3 linked regions of the Homo sapiens genome follow. The protein of the gene in region 1 interacts with the protein of each later gene in a biochemical or structural test. Each region holds a gene or a part of one and is shown in the gene's direction. Other genes may lie near its edges.

What was found.
Region 2: the proteins of MAPK7 (region 1) and PML form a complex in vitro, tested with the Homo sapiens proteins (2 studies listed by BioGRID and IntAct, with this or other methods).
Region 3: the proteins of MAPK7 (region 1) and MEF2C form a complex in vitro, tested with the Homo sapiens proteins (one study listed by BioGRID).

The regions. Positions count from the first base shown.
Region 1 is NC_000017.11:19,379,208-19,384,044, forward strand, and holds the end of MAPK7 (mitogen-activated protein kinase 7), read left to right. Parts: intron 1-574; coding exon 575-740; intron 741-1,276; coding exon of another isoform or gene 1,277-1,294; intron 1,295-1,400; coding exon 1,401-2,479; intron 2,480-2,573; coding exon 2,574-3,259; intron 3,260-3,605; coding exon 3,606-3,739; coding exon of another isoform or gene 3,740-3,743; intron 3,744-3,870; coding exon 3,871-4,024; 3' UTR 4,025-4,337; downstream 4,338-4,837. UniProt on the Homo sapiens protein: Plays a role in various cellular processes such as proliferation, differentiation and cell survival. The upstream activator of MAPK7 is the MAPK kinase MAP2K5.
Region 2 is NC_000015.10:74,039,716-74,046,715, forward strand, and holds part of PML (protein PML), read left to right. Parts: intron 1-3,273; coding exon 3,274-3,424; coding exon of another isoform or gene 3,425-3,465; exon of another isoform or gene 3,466-3,623; intron 3,624-4,505; coding exon 4,506-5,293; 3' UTR 5,294-7,000.
Region 3 is NC_000005.10:88,880,185-88,887,644, reverse strand, and holds the start of MEF2C (myocyte-specific enhancer factor 2C), read left to right. Parts: upstream 1-4,460; 5' UTR 4,461-4,690; intron 4,691-6,622; exon of another isoform or gene 6,623-6,721; intron 6,722-7,460. UniProt on the Homo sapiens protein: Transcription activator which binds specifically to the MEF2 element present in the regulatory regions of many muscle-specific genes. Controls cardiac morphogenesis and myogenesis, and is also involved in vascular development.

The DNA.
Region 1 (4,837 bases):
CGGGAAGGAAAGCGGGGTGCGAGTTCTGGCTCCAGTCAACACACACTGACCAGGGCCTTCTGCCTGCCAGGCTCCGGGGAGGCTCGGTTCTCTGAAACTCCGGCCTGGTGGTTTTGCCATCCTGCCTGCCTACTTCCTCCTTAGGAAAATGATAGTCCCAGTTAGACCAGAATGGAGAGCCAGTCCTTCGTGTCTAAGAGAGAAATGTGTTCTGGAGCCAGACACTGGCATAAGGAACTGGTGGTGGGATGGGTGAGGTCTGAGATGGAGAGGGTGTAGGCATAAGAGGCTGAGCTACACCACTGGGCATCCGTGCAACCTCCAACAAGTTACTAAGCCATATTTCCTTCTCTTTAACGTTGACCTATTGGGACCTGCCCCGCAGGGGAGTTGTGAAGGTAACATTTAATAATGTAGGTAACATGCTTAGCACAGGGCTTGGCACATAGTAGGTACCCAATACTTGGTAGCTGTTGTCATTTGCATCCTAGAAGGGAGGTGTTGATAGGGGCTGAGTCGACTCTGCAGTTTCTCCAAGGTATCCTCTGGTATGTCCCTTTTCCCTGCTCCTCAGGCCAGCAGGTGGCCATCAAGAAGATCCCTAATGCTTTCGATGTGGTGACCAATGCCAAGCGGACCCTCAGGGAGCTGAAGATCCTCAAGCACTTTAAACACGACAACATCATCGCCATCAAGGACATCCTGAGGCCCACCGTGCCCTATGGCGAATTCAAATCTGTGTAAGAAGCGGGATGGGAGAGGGAGCCAGACTTGGGACTTTTCTGAAGGCTGCAACCATGTTGCCGAAGTTCTGGAAAGGCAGCTGAATCTAATCTGAAGCAGGCTGGGAAAATTCCCGCAGTTCTAGGACCAGTTCTTTAGAGTTTTGCCAGGGACAACTGTTATTCCTCAAGAAGTGTACAGATGATTTTACAGTTTTATAGAATCTTAGTATATAGGATGTCAAATGTAGGACATTCCTACTATGACCACACCCTCCTATTCCCATAGCAGACTTCACTAATCAATCACAGAACACTTTCCTACAGACAGTGGACAAGCCTGGTCAATTTTCATCATAGTTCTTCAAGCTGCCACTACCAAACAATGGAGATAGCCCCAAAAGGAAACCTATTGGCCAGCCCTGGTGTAGTCCAACCCCATCTTTTATCTGATGGGGAAACTAGGTCTGGAGACAAAAGTGATTTAACCAAGTTCATGGAAAAGTCGTAGAGAATCTAAAACGTGATGCTCTTCTTCCATACCATGCCGTCAGCCCCTATGGGGTCCCAGGGTAAGGCTGTTACCTGTCTGGAATCGGAAGGGTGTGGTGAGGATGGGGCTTGTCCCTGGAGTGTGATCAGGCCAACCCATGCTTCTCTCCTTCCTTCCCCTTCCAGCTACGTGGTCCTGGACCTGATGGAAAGCGACCTGCACCAGATCATCCACTCCTCACAGCCCCTCACACTGGAACACGTGCGCTACTTCCTGTACCAACTGCTGCGGGGCCTGAAGTACATGCACTCGGCTCAGGTCATCCACCGTGACCTGAAGCCCTCCAACCTATTGGTGAATGAGAACTGTGAGCTCAAGATTGGTGACTTTGGTATGGCTCGTGGCCTGTGCACCTCGCCCGCTGAACATCAGTACTTCATGACTGAGTATGTGGCCACGCGCTGGTACCGTGCGCCCGAGCTCATGCTCTCTTTGCATGAGTATACACAGGCTATTGACCTCTGGTCTGTGGGCTGCATCTTTGGTGAGATGCTGGCCCGGCGCCAGCTCTTCCCAGGCAAAAACTATGTACACCAGCTACAGCTCATCATGATGGTGCTGGGTACCCCATCACCAGCCGTGATTCAGGCTGTGGGGGCTGAGAGGGTGCGGGCCTATATCCAGAGCTTGCCACCACGCCAGCCTGTGCCCTGGGAGACAGTGTACCCAGGTGCCGACCGCCAGGCCCTATCACTGCTGGGTCGCATGCTGCGTTTTGAGCCCAGCGCTCGCATCTCAGCAGCTGCTGCCCTTCGCCACCCTTTCCTGGCCAAGTACCATGATCCTGATGATGAGCCTGACTGTGCCCCGCCCTTTGACTTTGCCTTTGACCGCGAAGCCCTCACTCGGGAGCGCATTAAGGAGGCCATTGTGGCTGAAATTGAGGACTTCCATGCAAGGCGTGAGGGCATCCGCCAACAGATCCGCTTCCAGCCTTCTCTACAGCCTGTGGCTAGTGAGCCTGGCTGTCCAGATGTTGAAATGCCCAGTCCCTGGGCTCCCAGTGGGGACTGTGCCATGGAGTCTCCACCACCAGCCCCGCCACCATGCCCCGGCCCTGCACCTGACACCATTGATCTGACCCTGCAGCCACCTCCACCAGTCAGTGAGCCTGCCCCACCAAAGAAAGATGGTGCCATCTCAGACAATACTAAGGCTGCCCTTAAAGCTGCCCTGCTCAAGTCTTTGAGGAGCCGGCTCAGAGGTGCCTTGTGGGCAGGTCGGGTGGGCAGAGGGGAGACTTGGACTTGGACAAGGCTTCAGGCTTTTACCTTCTCCCCTGCCCAACTTCCCCGCAGATGGCCCCAGCGCACCCCTGGAGGCTCCTGAGCCTCGGAAGCCGGTGACAGCCCAGGAGCGCCAGCGGGAGCGGGAGGAGAAGCGGCGGAGGCGGCAAGAACGAGCCAAGGAGCGGGAGAAACGGCGGCAGGAGCGGGAGCGAAAGGAACGGGGGGCTGGGGCCTCTGGGGGCCCCTCCACTGACCCCTTGGCTGGACTAGTGCTCAGTGACAATGACAGAAGCCTGTTGGAACGCTGGACTCGAATGGCCCGGCCCGCAGCCCCAGCCCTCACCTCTGTGCCGGCCCCTGCCCCAGCGCCAACGCCAACCCCAACCCCAGTCCAACCTACCAGTCCTCCTCCTGGCCCTGTAGCCCAGCCCACTGGCCCGCAACCACAATCTGCGGGCTCTACCTCTGGCCCTGTACCCCAGCCTGCCTGCCCACCCCCTGGCCCTGCACCCCACCCCACTGGCCCTCCTGGGCCCATCCCTGTCCCCGCGCCACCCCAGATTGCCACCTCCACCAGCCTCCTGGCTGCCCAGTCACTTGTGCCACCCCCTGGGCTGCCTGGCTCCAGCACCCCAGGAGTTTTGCCTTACTTCCCACCTGGCCTGCCGCCCCCAGACGCCGGGGGAGCCCCTCAGTCTTCCATGTCAGAGTCACCTGATGTCAACCTTGTGACCCAGCAGCTATCTAAGTCACAGGTGAGAGGGAGGCCCAGGCCATGGGGACACCTGGGTCTGGGCCAAAGGAAAATGGGTTCAGGAAGCGGTCAGTGTTCCACAAAAACTGAGCAGCAGATGGGGCTTTATCTCTGAACGTGTCCTCTTGCTCACAGAAGGAGCATAATGGCAATGAAGAGGTTGTTAGGAGACAAGTTAAATATGGCCTGCAAAGTGCCTAGCCCAGAGATGGGGCCAGCCAGCACTCACTGACTGCCGAGACTGGTGTTAGCACTCCCAGATATCCAGGCGGAGTAGTCAGCAGCATTGGGACAGGGTGGCCTACAGACCTCAGTCTGTCTGCATTGTAACCTGTCATTCCCTGCAGGTGGAGGACCCCCTGCCCCCTGTGTTCTCAGGCACACCAAAGGGCAGTGGGGCTGGCTACGGTGTTGGCTTTGACCTGGAGGAATTCTTAAACCAGTCTTTCGACATGGGCGTGGCTGATGGGCCACAGGATGGGTAAGGTGGCTGGACTGAGCTCCTAGACTGGGACTGTGGGGAGAGGTTCCTGGTGCAGGAGACATGCACCTGTGGGATGGGTGAGGGTCCAGCCTAGGCTAATAGCACCCCTCCCTTTCCTTCCCCTGCAGCCAGGCAGATTCAGCCTCTCTCTCAGCCTCCCTGCTTGCTGACTGGCTCGAAGGCCATGGCATGAACCCTGCCGATATTGAGTCCCTGCAGCGTGAGATCCAGATGGACTCCCCAATGCTGCTGGCTGACCTGCCTGACCTCCAGGACCCCTGAGGCCCCCAGCCTGTGCCTTGCTGCCACAGTAGACCTAGTTCCAGGATCCATGGGAGCATTCTCAAAGGCTTTAGCCCTGGACCCAGCAGGTGAGGCTCGGCTTGGATTATTCTGCAGGTTCATCTCAGACCCACCTTTCAGCCTTAAGCAGCCACCTGAGCCACCACCGAGCCATGGCAGGATCGGGAGACCCCAACTCCCCCTGAACAATCCTTTTCAGTATTATATTTTTATTATTATTATGTTATTATTACACTGTCTTTTTGCCATCAAAATGAGGCCTGTGAAATACAAGGTTCCCTTCTGCACCTGACTCCAGGTGTAATTTTTGGAGTTCGGGGTAGGACACCATCAGCAGGGGAGCAAGGAGGAGCCAGGTGCCTACATTTGGGGGATAAACAAATATGTTTGTGTGTATGAAGCCAGTTCATTCAGGTTCTGAAGGTTTATTGAGACCTTCAGTCCCTACCCACTCCCAGCCCTGCAGAGATTGTCCTCTGCTCCCTCATGTGGCTAAACCTCTCAACACCCAGAGGGTATGGGGAAGACCTCATATGCATGCCTACCTTGGCTGTGGCTGTTTCAGGGTGGTGTGCGGTAGCTGTGTTCTTGGCATAGAGCTTCAGGGGCTGGGATGGGCCATCAGGGGAAGCTGAGTATGATAGTGAGGTGGGCTGGGGTTCCACGGTACTCACCACAGGGGAGTAAGTTGGTGGGAGGGATGCTGAAGATGGGACATGGTTTGAGAGCAGCCCAGAGGAGTGCTGGGCTGTGGCCTAGAATACACCATGGGCCCTGTTCACACTGCACTGC
Region 2 (7,000 bases), on another chromosome or scaffold:
TGCCTAACCAAAGTCAAGAACCACTGAATCGGGGGATTCATTGCATGTCTGTGGTAGAGGAATGCTGCTCATTTGTTTATAGATGTGGCAGTCTTGAATGCAGGTGACATTTTCATACCAGGGTGTAATACCGCAGAGGAGGGGAGAGGCTGGATCTTCCCTGATGTACCTCCTGGACTTTTGGAGTGTGATTACAATGCCAATCCAGCCACTTCCTCTGAGCATGCTTGGGACGACTGTTAGACCTGCTGTGTTGAGTTAGAATGCACTTGACCTGCTCAGGCCGTGAAATCTATGAGGAAGGGGAGTGAGATGGATGTAGCTCATGAGCCAGATTGCAGGTGTATCCAAGTTGCATGTATATCCTGAAAAAATCCTGGCTCTCACGAGGCTCAGCCTGAACACAGTTTTGCATTCAAAGAAACAATGTCCATTAACCAAGTATAATAAAGAAATAAATCCCAGTATTTACTTGCATCTTTTGAAAGAACATTAAAGGGAATCCAGCTCATAACCCCAGCAGCACTTCTTCAGTCCTTCTTCCCCTTTTCTTTGGCGCCTGGCATCTCTCACTGCATAGCAAAGCTTTCCCCCTTGATTCCCGGTCCTCACACGCAGGCTCAAGGCTCTGTTTCCCATCTTCTTTCTTCTGTCCCCCTTCCTTTTCTCTTCCAAGCAAATCTAAGTCTTTTCCAGTGACTGTCCCTCTCTATGCTCCCCCGACACCCAGTTATCCTAATTTGCGGAATAAGGCCAAGGTGTGGGGCCTGGGGGCAGAATGGGAGAGTCTCCCCTAGTGAGCAGGGAGGGGAGTATGTTCTGCACCAGGCCACTATGTCTGATGGCCCTGCTGGCAAACCTGAGTCTTTCAGAAAGTCTTGTTTAAATGCGTCAGCACTCCCCAGCTGTGATGCTGGAGTTTAAGGCGGAGCAGGGGAGAATTCTGGGTTTACAGCTGGCTGGAGTTCCAGTGAGACCAGCTCCATGGGTGGCCATACTTTATGGAAGTCCCCAAGGGCAAGAGGAATTTTGGAGGAAGTGAGTCAGGGCTGAAAGGTCCAGCCTCTCCTCCATTAACAAGCTTGGTGGAAAGGGGGTGTCCTTTTATTAAAGGAGACAGTAGAGGTTTCTTAGAGAAGGCAGCTCGAGTAAGTTTAGGACAAAGGACATTTCCCTGGCCCCGGGACAATGGAAGGCTCTAAAAACGAGGTTCTAGTGGCTGCCATAAATGACCCTGCTGTAACGATGGGAGGGGTGGCCTAAAGAGACAGTACTGTGGCTCTCCAGGGAGCTCTCCTCTTGGAAGAGCAGATCTGAAGGCGGGAAGACTGGTTCTAAGGCCGAGGACATTGCCCCGAGCTTTGTGGAGGCACTCAGGAACACAAAGGGGCATTTCCAGTTGGGTTTGGAGCAGGAAGAAGAACGAAAAAGAGAAAGTCCTGTGTGCCATGTCAGTGGGTGGCAGCATGGACTCAGCCTCAGCTATTGGCACCAAGGATCTGAACCAGGGAGGACCCAGAAGGGGAGCCCAGCCCCTCCACCAGCTTGTGGGAGAGCGCTGCTGCCCAGTGAAGCCTGGAGAGAGGAAACAACTGGATTCTCCCAAAGCGGGAGAAGGTGGAGTCTCCAGCCACCCAGCTACAAGCTAGGAAGACGCCTTGTAGAAGGCTCCTTACAGGGAGGAAACCGAGTTGGAAAGGCGAGACAGCAGTGTGGGCTCACCCGGAGCAAGACGTGTGAAATCAGCTTTTGACAGCGTGGCTGAATGAGGATCTGGAGATGCGAGGCGCTGGGCAGACTCTCTGACTAGATCCCTGGATATGAAGAGGCAAAGCCAGCTCTAGATGGATTCATAGTGAGTGTCTGCTTCTGACAATAACTGGCAGAAAGCTGATGAGCCTGGAGCAGGGCTGTGAAATGCAAATCCAGTGAAATCCAGCCACTCCTACAAAAACCCACCACATCTTAGGTTACTTGTGGGTGGAAACGCTTTTTCTCTCAGTTGAAGCTTGGTTGGAAGCAGATGTTTCACTTGGGCATTGGAAGGGTCTGGGGAAATGTGCTGCCTCCTAGGCCAGGGACATTAGCCAGAGGCCAGAATTAACTGAGGCTTTAGCACCAGGTGACACCAACTTCATTGAGAAGCCAGCGGCAGTCCATAAAGAGGAAAAACCCAAGGCCTGCCCTGGACTCTGTCCCAGCCATGCTCCCAATTGGCCCTGTGATCCTGTCCATGTCTCTTCCTTGCTGGTCTCTGGCTAACGTCCACAGGTGGCATTCATGGGAGGTTCCAAGTTGGTCATCAAAGACTAAACATCTGGGCTTGGCAGCTGAGCAGATGATAAGCAATTAACTCTGTATTACCATCAGAGGCTCCACCTCCCTCTGTAGTCCCAGTCCCTTGGGAAAATCTCAGAGCTGGAGCCCTTCCCTCATCCTCTGGCTCCCCACCCCATGGCTTCTCGAACAGTGTTCCCACCAGGACCTTGGGACAGGAGAGAACGCCTCACCTGAAGGACTCCCAAAACTCAGGTTTCTCTAAGCTGCTGGGGCAGATGCCAAGAGCCTCCACTGCTCTCTCACTGCCAAGGACCTGGGTGTCCACCTAGATGTGGCCTTCAGGAGGCCAAGCAGTCCTTCCCCTCGCCTTTGTGTAGGACACTGGCACCTCGGCTGACTTCGGGGACAAGAAAAGGCAGGCTCCCGACCCCTTCCAAAGAATCATCTGGGGTTCAAGATGAGGCTTCTTTCTCCCGTCCCAAGTTTTGGTGTTTCTTCTGAGTCTGCTCAGAAAGATGAAATTAGGAGCAGACATCTCAGGTCCTGCCTGCCATAGCAGATGGCTCCTTCCCTGAGCCTCCATAAGCAGCACAGCACACTCATGCACACACCCACTGGCATTTTCTCTCACACTTTCATACACTTGTGTCAACGCAGGTTCACAGCTCACACTTAACTGTGCATGCACACACAGATTTAGCACTTGGATTCATTCCCACACATGCACGTTCACAACCTGTGTGTGTCACCCTTCCTCCCCTACTCATGAGGGTGTATGCCCTGGTTCATACATGTAACCCTCACATGTGACACACCCAGTTCACACCCATTCATGCACACATACCTTCTCTTGTGCACACGTCCCCTTTCCCAGTGGTACACCCTCCTTCATGTGCACGCAGATGCTCCCAGCTATACCAGCTTGCTAGTGTTCTGCACAGGTGCTTGCCTTGGCCCTCTGAATCCCTGACGCTTGGTTTTTCTGTGTTGCAGTCCTCCCGAGAGCTGGATGACAGCAGCAGTGAGTCCAGTGACCTCCAGCTGGAAGGCCCCAGCACCCTCAGGGTCCTGGACGAGAACCTTGCTGACCCCCAAGCAGAAGACAGACCTCTGGTTTTCTTTGACCTCAAGATTGACAATGAAAGTGGGTTCTCCTGGGGCTACCCCCACCCCTTTCTAATTTAGTCTCTGAGTCCCAAAAAGAAGTGCAGGCAGAGCCATCTGCCAGGCCCAGGAGAGCTCTGAGCTCTGGCCAACAACTGCAGCCAGGCTGGGCAGAGCACTCCGGCTCACCTGGGCTCCTGGCGTGTCATTTGCTGGCTTGAATAAAGATGTCCGCCTTATCCAGTGCCTGAGTGTGCGAGAGAGGCAGATGCCTCCACAAGTGCACCTCTGACCAGTTCTTCTCTCAGACAGAGAGCCTGGGGAACACACTCCTAGACAGAAACACAATGCGTGAGCTCATTGCCGTGAGCCCTGTCATCCAAGTAAGGCCTCTGGCTGTGCTACACGTTTCTGAGTAGAGGGCCAATCCCACAGGTGGCTGCACAGGGCTGCCCACAGATCCAAGGTCACAGAGGGATCAGACCCCTTATCCTGGAAGCCCCTCTACTTCCTCCAGTGCTTGCCCTGGCTCTGCAAATGCCCCTCCTTGAGCCAGAGCCCCAGGCCCTACCCTGTGGCATGGACTCAACATTGGGGCTAGCCCAGCCAGACAGAAACAGCAAGTGTTTTCATGGTACAGAAAAGTCATTTGCAGACCTCAGTGGGAGGCTCTTGGCCTTGCTCTGAGTGGAGTGCTTTCTATGTCCCAGGGCTCTGACTGGGCTGGGGTCCTTGAGGGGATTGGAGGAAGGAGCATGGGATGGAGAGCTAAGTTCAAGCAGCCTGGGATCTCTAGTATAGGTGGCTGAGGCTGATAGAAGACAGGAGGGACCTGTATCCATGGGGTTTGGCCAACTCTGGGGCCGGTAGTGGAGGAGGGGAGAGCTGGATCCCCAGCTGGTGAACAAAGTGTTTGGAGGGCAGCCGAGCCTCCCCTTCTGACTGCTATCCCACCACAACCAGGATCAGAGCTGCATTTGGGGGCTGATGTGTGGCTACTGCCAGCAGACCCCAAGGTGAGGTCTCTAGATGGTGAGTCAGCAGCCCTAGAGGACCCCCTGCTCCCACCCCAGAGCTCTCTGTGACCCTGGGTCCTCACCCTGCCCTTCTCTCCTGCCCAGCCCAGAAGATTAGCCAGCTGGCTGCGGTGAACCGGGAAAGCAAGTTCCGCGTGGTCATCCAGCCTGAAGCCTTCTTCAGCATCTACTCCAAGGCCGTGTCCCTGGAGGTGGGGCTGCAGCACTTCCTCAGCTTTCTGAGCTCCATGCGCCGCCCTATCTTGGCCTGCTACAAGCTGTGGGGGCCTGGCCTCCCAAACTTCTTCCGGGCCCTGGAGGACATTAACAGGCTGTGGGAATTCCAGGAGGCCATCTCGGGCTTCCTGGCTGCCCTGCCTCTCATCCGGGAGCGTGTGCCCGGGGCCAGCAGCTTCAAACTCAAGAACCTGGCCCAGACCTACCTGGCGAGAAACATGAGCGAGCGCAGCGCCATGGCTGCCGTGCTGGCCATGCGTGACCTGTGCCGCCTCCTCGAGGTCTCCCCGGGCCCCCAGCTGGCCCAGCATGTCTACCCCTTCAGTAGCCTGCAGTGCTTTGCCTCCCTGCAGCCCCTGGTGCAGGCAGCTGTGCTGCCCCGGGCTGAGGCCCGCCTCCTGGCCCTACACAACGTGAGCTTCATGGAGCTGCTGAGTGCACACCGCCGTGACCGGCAGGGGGGCCTGAAGAAGTACAGCCGCTATCTAAGCCTGCAGACCACCACGTTGCCCCCTGCCCAGCCTGCTTTCAACCTGCAGGCTCTGGGCACCTACTTTGAAGGCCTGTTGGAGGGTCCGGCGCTGGCACGGGCAGAAGGAGTCTCCACCCCACTTGCTGGCCGTGGCTTGGCAGAGAGGGCCTCCCAGCAGAGCTGAGAGGAGGGGGTGACCAGCTTGGAGTCTCTGGTGGGCAGAGAGGGATGGGGTCCCTGAGCCAGGCCCCACCCATCACAGCATTCCCAGGTCCTGGTACCCAGCCCTCAGTTGTCATTTGGTTCAGAATCAGTTCCCTTTCTCTGGGACCAAATTTCCCTTCTCTAAACATCCTACAGAGAAGGTTCCAAAGCTGAGCACCCATCACCCTAGGTGTGCACCAGACTCCTATTAGCCCCTCCTTCCAGGAGCTAGAACCAGGGAGGTCCTGAGTGAGGAAGGCATGACCTCTGGGCTCTCTAGGTGGCCCTGGTCTTGCCCCATCCATCCCACCTGCCACTACCTTGGGTGTCCTTACAGCTCTGCCCTGACCCCAGCCCCTGCCCCTGGACACCTGCTGACAGCTCCCACACAGAACAGTCTGAGGTGATGCTGGCTACAGCCCTGGCAGCCCATGGCAACTCAAAGTGCCTTCCAAACCAAACTGCCCCTCATGAGGTTAGGGTCCCCCACCCTCCACCTGCCCAGAGGCCAACTCTGTTCCCTTCTCCTTTCATCCCAGAGGGGCCTCATCAGCAAAGACAGAAACTGATGTTCCATGCATGTCCCTGCTTCCAAAGCCTGACCTTCCAAAGCTTGCTTCCTTCCTCCTGGCTGCACAGACACCTCTGCTTGGCCACAGCTTTGCTCTTTGGTCCTCAGGCCACCAGACCCCTCACAGCATGGCCCTTGGCTCTTCCTGCACTGCCCTCACCCTCAGCCGTCCCAAGGAGTGCCCAGCACTACTCAGCATGTAGTCCAGGACCTGCGGCATCAGCATCCCCTGGGAGCTTCTTAGAAATGCAGACCTGTGGGCTCTACCACAGGCCTCTGGAATCAGAATCTTCAGGGTGGGGCCCAGCAGTCTGTGTTTTAACAGGTTCTCCCGGTGATGCTGGTGCATGCTCAAGTTTGAGAACCGCTGCTCTCATAGACTGCTCCTCCAAGGGGAAGCAGTGTGGAACAGCAGAGAAAGTCCCGTCCCTATCTCTGACTGTGCAGTGAGTGTGGCCTAGGAACAGGTCCCTTCCTAAGCTCTAGTGTCCCCATCTGTAAAATGGGCTGATTGGCCTCCACGGTCAGAGCGGCCATCTGGCTGTGCCATCCTGCATTTTTAGGAATGGAAAGCAGGCCTCTGAGGCAGTGGACAGGAAGACTTCTCATCCTTGAATTCTAGCTCCCATTCCAAACTGTTAGTCCCCAACCTTGTGGTCACATCAGAGGTCAACAGCAGAACAGAGGCAGGTCAGGGTTGTCCGCTCTGATTAGCAGAACGACAGCCCCTTCCTCCTCCTCCCTCCTTCCCATCCCTACTCATTAGCTCCCTGCTCCTGGGATGCTTCCCAAGCAGCCCAGGCCTCTAGCCTCCATGGCTGATGACCTCAGCTTTCACACTGGTGAAGTCTGTGTACCCATACTGCAGCCCCATCCCATGGGGCCCCTGAAGACCCACTGAGGAATTCCGTAGGGTCTTGTTCCCACGACCGGAGTGCTGGCTCTCACAGTGAATTTTGATGCATTTAAAATAAGATTCTGATGCCAGACTGTTAAAACAGGCGCTGGTTCTGAAGCACCGATGGAAACAGATTGATGCAGATGGAAGGAGGAAGGGAGACTGGGCCCACTGATTTCCAGCCCCACCATGTGTGCTGTTTTCAGATGTGATTGAGG
Region 3 (7,460 bases), on another chromosome or scaffold:
GCATTAACAAAATACTATATACTGTTTTGCACTTCCACATTTGAAGGTGCCAAAGAAGAGTTGCAAACTGTGAAGTAACTTCTATGAAGAGATGAAGTAAAGAACGGAAGGCAAATGATTGTGGCAGTAAAGAAGTGTATGTGGTGAGTGCTCACATTTGTTTTTATCATTTACCACAGAGTTACCATAAAGGTAAAACTGCCAAACTCCTTGGCCTTAGGTATTTACAGAATAGACGTGTATAACAATAATAAAGAGTTAAATGACCACCATACACTTTATATTATAAGCAATGACATATCATTTTGCTTAAAGATCATGTCATCTTTCAGGGCCTACTTTTGCAAGTACTGTATCTTATAAAATTAATCTATTTCATGGGAAGTCCTGTGTATCATCAATACTATAATTAGACAAAGATTAAAATATGTAATGCTATTGGAATTTGTGTTTCACTGCTTTTTAGATTTTTCTAAACCACCATGTTCACTTATCATGTTTGTGTTAAAAGTATTCTGGCTGAGGAACAAATACTATACAGTTGAATAATCTTAAGGGGTACATTAATCTATAGCCTTTCTTCATCTCAGGGTGGGTTGCTGTGGCAACCGCCCCAGTTCACTTTAAAATAATTTTTAAAGCTCACTTCAAGAGCTACACCCAGCGTGGGCCAGGCTTAAAAGCAGGCAGACCCAGTGCACAGGGCTTTAGTGGACCGCTGCTTTAATGTAGGGAAGTAGTGAAGAGAGGAGGTTGGAGTAAGATGGTATGCAGCTCTGAACAGAAATTGCAATATTAGCTTTCCCTGGAGTTAAAATCCCGAGGAGCATGCTCTCTGTAACTTCTATGACACTTTAATTAAATATATTGCTAAACATAATTCTTTTGAGGGAAAAACAAGTGACTCTATATTTACATTAACAATAAAGCATTTACAACTTAATGTAGGAGAAATATTTGGTGATTAGAAAAAAATAAAAGCTGGTACAGTAGTACATCAATCCCAGACATAATTTTCTTTTAAAGGAATTGTCACCTATTATTTAACTGGATAGACCCTACCTTCCAATTGGTTTAAAGGGTAGAAACATTTTCTGTTTTCCAATGATAGAACTGGAATAGGTTACAGAACTCATTTAACACATAAGCGAACTGAAGCCTAGAAAGGACAAATCCCTTAGTAAGGCACAAATTTTGAACTAGATAGAGAATCCAGGTCTCCTGACACCTAGTACAAGCTCCTCCCTACATGAGAAAATAGTCTGATCCTAACCAAGTATCATTAGATGGCAAGGATCAGGATGATTTTAAAGAAAAAACAAAAACAGAAACAGAAACCAAAAGTCCAGAAGTATTTAAAGAATACAAAGCACACTCTGGATTAACTACTTTGTGGATTACTCATGAATAATTTTAAATCTCAGGTGATTTTCTAATGTATATTTCTTCATATCTCTTCTGCTTCAACTGTAAAGGCTCATGGGAAGAAAACTAATGGTAATATTAACTTAGGTCACACATAATTAAGAAGCTAAATCTGCTGAGGGGAAAATCCTGTATTTTAAAAGGCCAACTGTGATACATTCCAGATCCAAATTATTTTCAAATTATCCAGTGTGGGGTTATACTTATTTTTGAATGCTTGCAGTATCATTAATAATTATGGGTTTGTTATAATGGGTATTATTAAATAATTATTTAAAATATGAAAAGGTAAAATAAAATAATTTCTTTTTGAAAGAACATCTAAAACTGAAGTGTACTGTGGTAAACAGAAATACCCTCTATAATTCATTAAAAACAGCAGGGCTGAAATTCATGTATTGGCTATGTGTTTGCTCATGTCAAATAGACTGTTGTAACTCACTGCATTAATTTTAGGTATTATGGCAATAAACTTAGATGGTCCTTCAAATGCTTTGCTTTTTCAGGACCTTCGTGAATCTTGAAGAAAATTAATTTTATTTTTACCACCATATATAGACATATCTTAGTATTCGAAATATCTTTGCCCTTTAAATTTTTGGATTTTCAGAGAAGTTGTACTTTGAATGGAAACCTGATACAGATGTTCTCTGCCATATTATTAAAATGAATTCATGGTAATGGCAAACTCAACATTTGAAAAACCGGCAAACAAAATACATTGTAAATACTAATCTGCAAGAAATACTACTATTTCAGATGGTTTTTGCTTTGTGACAGTTTGTGATGCATTCCTATAATAAAAGGGAGGGAATGGTCTTAGTTTTGCTGATAGTCACAATGATGAGCTGGAACTTGAAGATTGTTCAGATCTAGTTGTACTTGCCTATAAAATAAACCTTCCCCTTTCAAGTGAAGCCTTGGGACAGTTGCCTAAATGTTGAGGCCACTCTTCTGAGAGAAGCTACTCACATCAAATACCTCCTACATTGAAGCAGGAGGCTTTTTGAACCATACTGTCCTCATATATTAAAATAGTCATCTGGAGGCATATTGCTGAACTTAACAGGAAATACAACTAGTCATTGGGTTAAACGTAGTGCTAAAAGGAATTTTCTAAAGTGAGGAAATCTTTAGTTAGCTAGATATTTCAATATACTATTGTCTAATCTCATATATTCCATGTTCTATTAATTTTCCCTTCTTGCTTTCACAATATTTTTTAAAAAATAGTTTGGTTTAAACATTTTATGTAATCTATAATTCTACTGGCATGCAATCTTGTCTTTTCATGATTCTATACTAGTTGATGTATTTTATCTTTGGCTTTATTGGGCATGGTATATATTAACAGTTGGTTAGGGCGGGAGGTGCCCAATCTCTAGTAGCCTAAATATTAAAGCCTTTTTTTTTTTTTTTTGTAAGGAAAAGTGTTTATCATGCTTTAACCTTAACATAAGTATCCTCCCTTATCAGTCTCTATTTCTGCTTCCTGTGCAGCTGAAACTCTTCAGGATAAGTGAAGTCATCAGCTATCGGCTAGGGTAGCCTAATGCATTTGGGAAGTTGGTTTGGTTTACATGTTAATGACCTGGATGAAGTCCAGTAAGGTGTGGAAAAGATAGAGTGGGGGGAGGGGGGGAACTCCGAGGAAGCTGCTTCCTCGGTAAATATTTCCAAACTGATTAGAAAGTTCATGGCCCCGCGATGAAGTCGAGATCTCAAATACTGGTAATTATTTTATTATTTCGTACATTACTAACATTAGAGAAACCTTTCGGCTCGCTTTCTAGCGCTCCAACCTCTCAGGGTGAAAACCGCGACTTCTGGGCGTGCAGGAAAAGCACGCTGGAATCGAGTGCTGCAGACATCCTGGACCGTGGTTTTTACGCGTGAGTAACGGAGGAGCGCACCGACCGGTGGAAGAGAGAAGTGGCTAACGCGTGTCCAAAAGGGGGAAAAGTCACAAGAGCAACTATTAGGGTCGCGCTCCTATTGGTCAGAGGAAAGATCCCGACTTTAGAAGGACTTTCCTGCTGGCTGGCTCGCAGCGTCCCCGGAGAGCAAGCGAGCGCGCCGCAGCGGGAGACTAGGTTCTCTCCGAGCGTCCTCCGCAGAGGCGCCGCGAGAGGAGCAGGGAGCCGCAGCTCGCCGTGTTGTCTTCATTTCGTGCAATAAAGAATTGTCATTAGGTTTGCGTATGGCATGTGCTATTACCCCACCGTAAAACTAAAATTAGCAAAATGTCAGGAATGGAAAGATTGATTCACCAAGATGCAATTATCATTTAAAAGTGCTTGATTGAGGTACTGATGTTCAGTGATTTATTCTGCATACCATATACATAATTAAAGTAGTGTAGTGGAGTAATTTATCAATCTAGTTGAGACTGGAGGGGTGAGGAGGGAGCTGCTGTATGTTTGTTTTATTAAAATGCTCCGAGGTCTAGTCCCGCCCCCCTTTTGCAAGAGTGAAACTGATGATTTCTCCAGCTCGCGAGGAAAGAGTCAACGGTTTGGGATTGTGGGGGAGAGAGAGACGGAGAGAAAAAGGCAGCGCGAAGCAAAGGCAAGGACAAAATTAAATAAAGGGGGAAAAAAGGAGGCAAAAGACATTTCATCGGACGTGCTGCTTAGAACCCCAACCATTCGTGCTCCGTCTTCCCTACCACCCCCGCCTCCCCTCCCAGTATCCTTCAATCCCCCCCGCCCCCACCACCCCCAGTCTTTTTTACGCGATGTTTCAAACGCTGTGAGCTGTTCTCCTTTTCCCATTCGTCTTCTGTCACTTCCTTCCTGGACGCAGTTTTCTGGACGAGTCTGGTTACTTTTAATCCGACCGGCCGCTGAGAGCCACTTTCTCCTCCTCCTCCTCCTCCTCCTTCTCTTCCTCCTCCTTCTTCCTCCTCCTCCTCCTCTTCCGAGCGGCCTCGGCGCGCGCGAATGCGCGGCCCCGCGCCCCCCCCCTCGCGCGCGCTCCCCTCGCGCGCGCGCACACACGCACACATCGTCTCCAGCTCTCTGCTCGCTCTGCTCGCAGTCACAGACACTTGAGCACACGCGTACACCCAGACATCTTCGGGCTGCTATTGGATTGACTTTGAAGGTTCTGTGTGGGTCGCCGTGGCTGCATGTTTGAATCAGGTGGAGAAGCACTTCAACGCTGGACGAAGTAAAGATTATTGTTGTTATTTTTTTTTTCTCTCTCTCTCTCTCTTAAGAAAGGAAAATATCCCAAGGACTAATCTGATCGGGTCTTCCTTCATGTAAGTACCCCTGATATTTCTCGAGGAAATAGAAAACCCGGGTATTGTCTCTAAAATCTGCATCAATATATTCCACGGCACTGTGTCTATCTATCCCTGTGCCTTTTTTGAAGGCTGAAGTTGAGGCTCGTTGTGCATTCTTTTTCGTTAGATTCCATGATTTCCTTGTTTGTTGCTAAAAGTAACTTTTTAGATAGTCGTATCCGTTTGCCATCAGCTATTGAAATCACTCCTGACTCGTTCCTGTCACACCAGTGTATTTAAAGTTTCATGAAGTTAGTTCACGTCATTAGCATGTTTGATATGGTGGAGCGTGTGGAGCCTGGTGGATTTTAATATTTCACAGCATGTTCTGTGACCTTGAAGTAGACGCCTTAAGATTTAGCAGTTAGTTCACTGTGGAAAGATGCTCCCATGAGTCCCCCCAAAGACACTGATTTGCCCTGGGTTATGCTTCTGAGCCACTAATTCTTGGGATTAGTTTGACCTAAAGCATGGCTGTCTGTCAGAGTATACCTTTGTGCATTTCCTTCCCTCACCAAAGTGCCGGCTTGACAGAGGGCTTCTTAATTGGTGTGGACAAAAAGTAATATCCCTGCCATAGTAGTCTACACATTTCACAATTCACGTTCGATTTCAGCATATGGATTGCTGTTCAGGTCAAGTCAAATACATAGCTGTTTAAAAGCAAGCAAGGTTAAGTCACTTAAATTGCCTTCTCTTTGGACTTGGAATGAAAGTTACCAAACTCGATGATAAAGTTTGTCACAAAGGAAGTATATATAGATGTGGCACATTGTTTATTTTATTATTAAATATTGTGGAAGTATTTAAATTTAATGCTAATGTTACCTTCCTTCCCTGAACATGGCTATTGCTTTTTAAAGGAAATTTTATATCTGAATCACTTCTGACTATTCTAAGTCCAGTAGTTATCATTCTTTGGGGAGAGCCTTTTTTTGTCACATTTTAGGAATGCGTGTCTTTTGTATAAAATACTTTATATGTAAATGCTGACAGTAGACTAAGTAGAATTGGGCTCTCTGCCAGTTCCTTAACCGGTCCTCAGTGGAGAATTGCTTTGACACAAAGTGCGTTTTACTATTGTGAATCTGAAACTAACTCTAATAGTAACTGTCTTATGAAATGCTTGGGGACTGCATATAATTTCTAAGTGCTATAAAGGAAACTCCAGCCACCTCATTATACCAGTCCAAAAAAAAAAAAAGCGACTAGCCTACTTTCACTGGCACCTTGCAATGGAATTGTGGTTGCAGAGTAAAGATGTTTATGTGGAGTATAATAACTCCAATCCCTAGAGACTTGGTAGGACATGGAAATGTGACCACCTGTGAACCCCGTTTAACCTCGTATTGCATACCAATTTTAGCTTTAAATAGATCAACAATCTCTAATTTGAAACTAAAACATCTTATTTAATTTTAAAAAATGTCAGTTTTGGCTAGTCTTTAAAAACATTCAGCATGTACCAATATGGTATAAGCAGTATTTTTGTTTCTCCATCAGTTTCAACTAAAGATAATGCAGTTAAAAAGCCATATTATTGTCTTCCAGTGTATGCATGAAATTAAGTTAAAAGAAGTAGTTCTAAAGCAAGACTCAGAACTTGATAGGTAAAATGAGATGTCCCTATCTAACATCCTATTTCAAGAGGAAAGAAATATTTTAAATCAAATATCTCATTCTATTTGTAGAAAAGTACATTTAGCTATGTATTCTGCTACTAACTCAATTCTAAAAGTTTTCATCAAAACAGTCTTTAAACATAACATTTGCTTAAAATTTGGTTCTCCCGTCAAAGAGACAGTAGGTGGCTGTTACCTTTACTTCAAATTTTACTAAATTTTATAAAAACCTACTATTTTTATTAATATAATTCACACAGCATTCGAATGTTTGACTTTTTTTCAGACTTCTTAGGAAAGGCAGCATTTTACTTCATTCATTAATTGCACCATTTACGTCCTGATTGCTGTGCATGTGGAATATATTGAAAGATAATATTAAAGTGTAAGTTTTATTAAATGTTAATTTGTTTTTTATTTCAATAACAAATGAGCAATTTATAATAAAAACAGTTTTCCACCTTTTCTGAGCTATTCATATTTTAAAAGTGTGCAATCACAGATATTAACTTTTCAAGAGAGAAGCACATTAATACTAGATAACTCCATGAAACTTAGATAACAAGAGGCACTTTGCCTCTTTTCTTCTTTGTAAACATGTTCATTTTGAAAAATTTGGGGGAAAAGATACCTGAAATTTTTTCCTTGGCCCTAACTTAACGGAATCAATAAATTCCATAACACTGCAAACGTATCTTTCTAATAAATACTTTATTTAAACTTCTTTTATAAAGAACAGCACTGAATAACTCCTTAGCATATCTTAACATTATCTTTTAAAACTTTCTTCTGTTTATTGTAGTATATTTTGTGGTTTTATTTCTCAACTCTAAAGTGTGGTATAATTTGAGTCTATGAAATCTCAGAAAGTGACAAAAATGGGGAAATAGCTGTGCAGCAATACTTGTGCTACATAACAACAAAGACATAGTTATTAAACAGAATTCTGGCTTTGGGGACATGATTCGAAGCAACATAGAAGAATTTAATATGCAATTAATGGTCACAAGATGAACTGTTAAGAGATTATTAATAAAGTTACACTTTTTTTTCAAAAGCACATCCTCTGAGAAAATACCACACAAATTAATATCTAAAACTTATCAAAATACACGTATTCATTC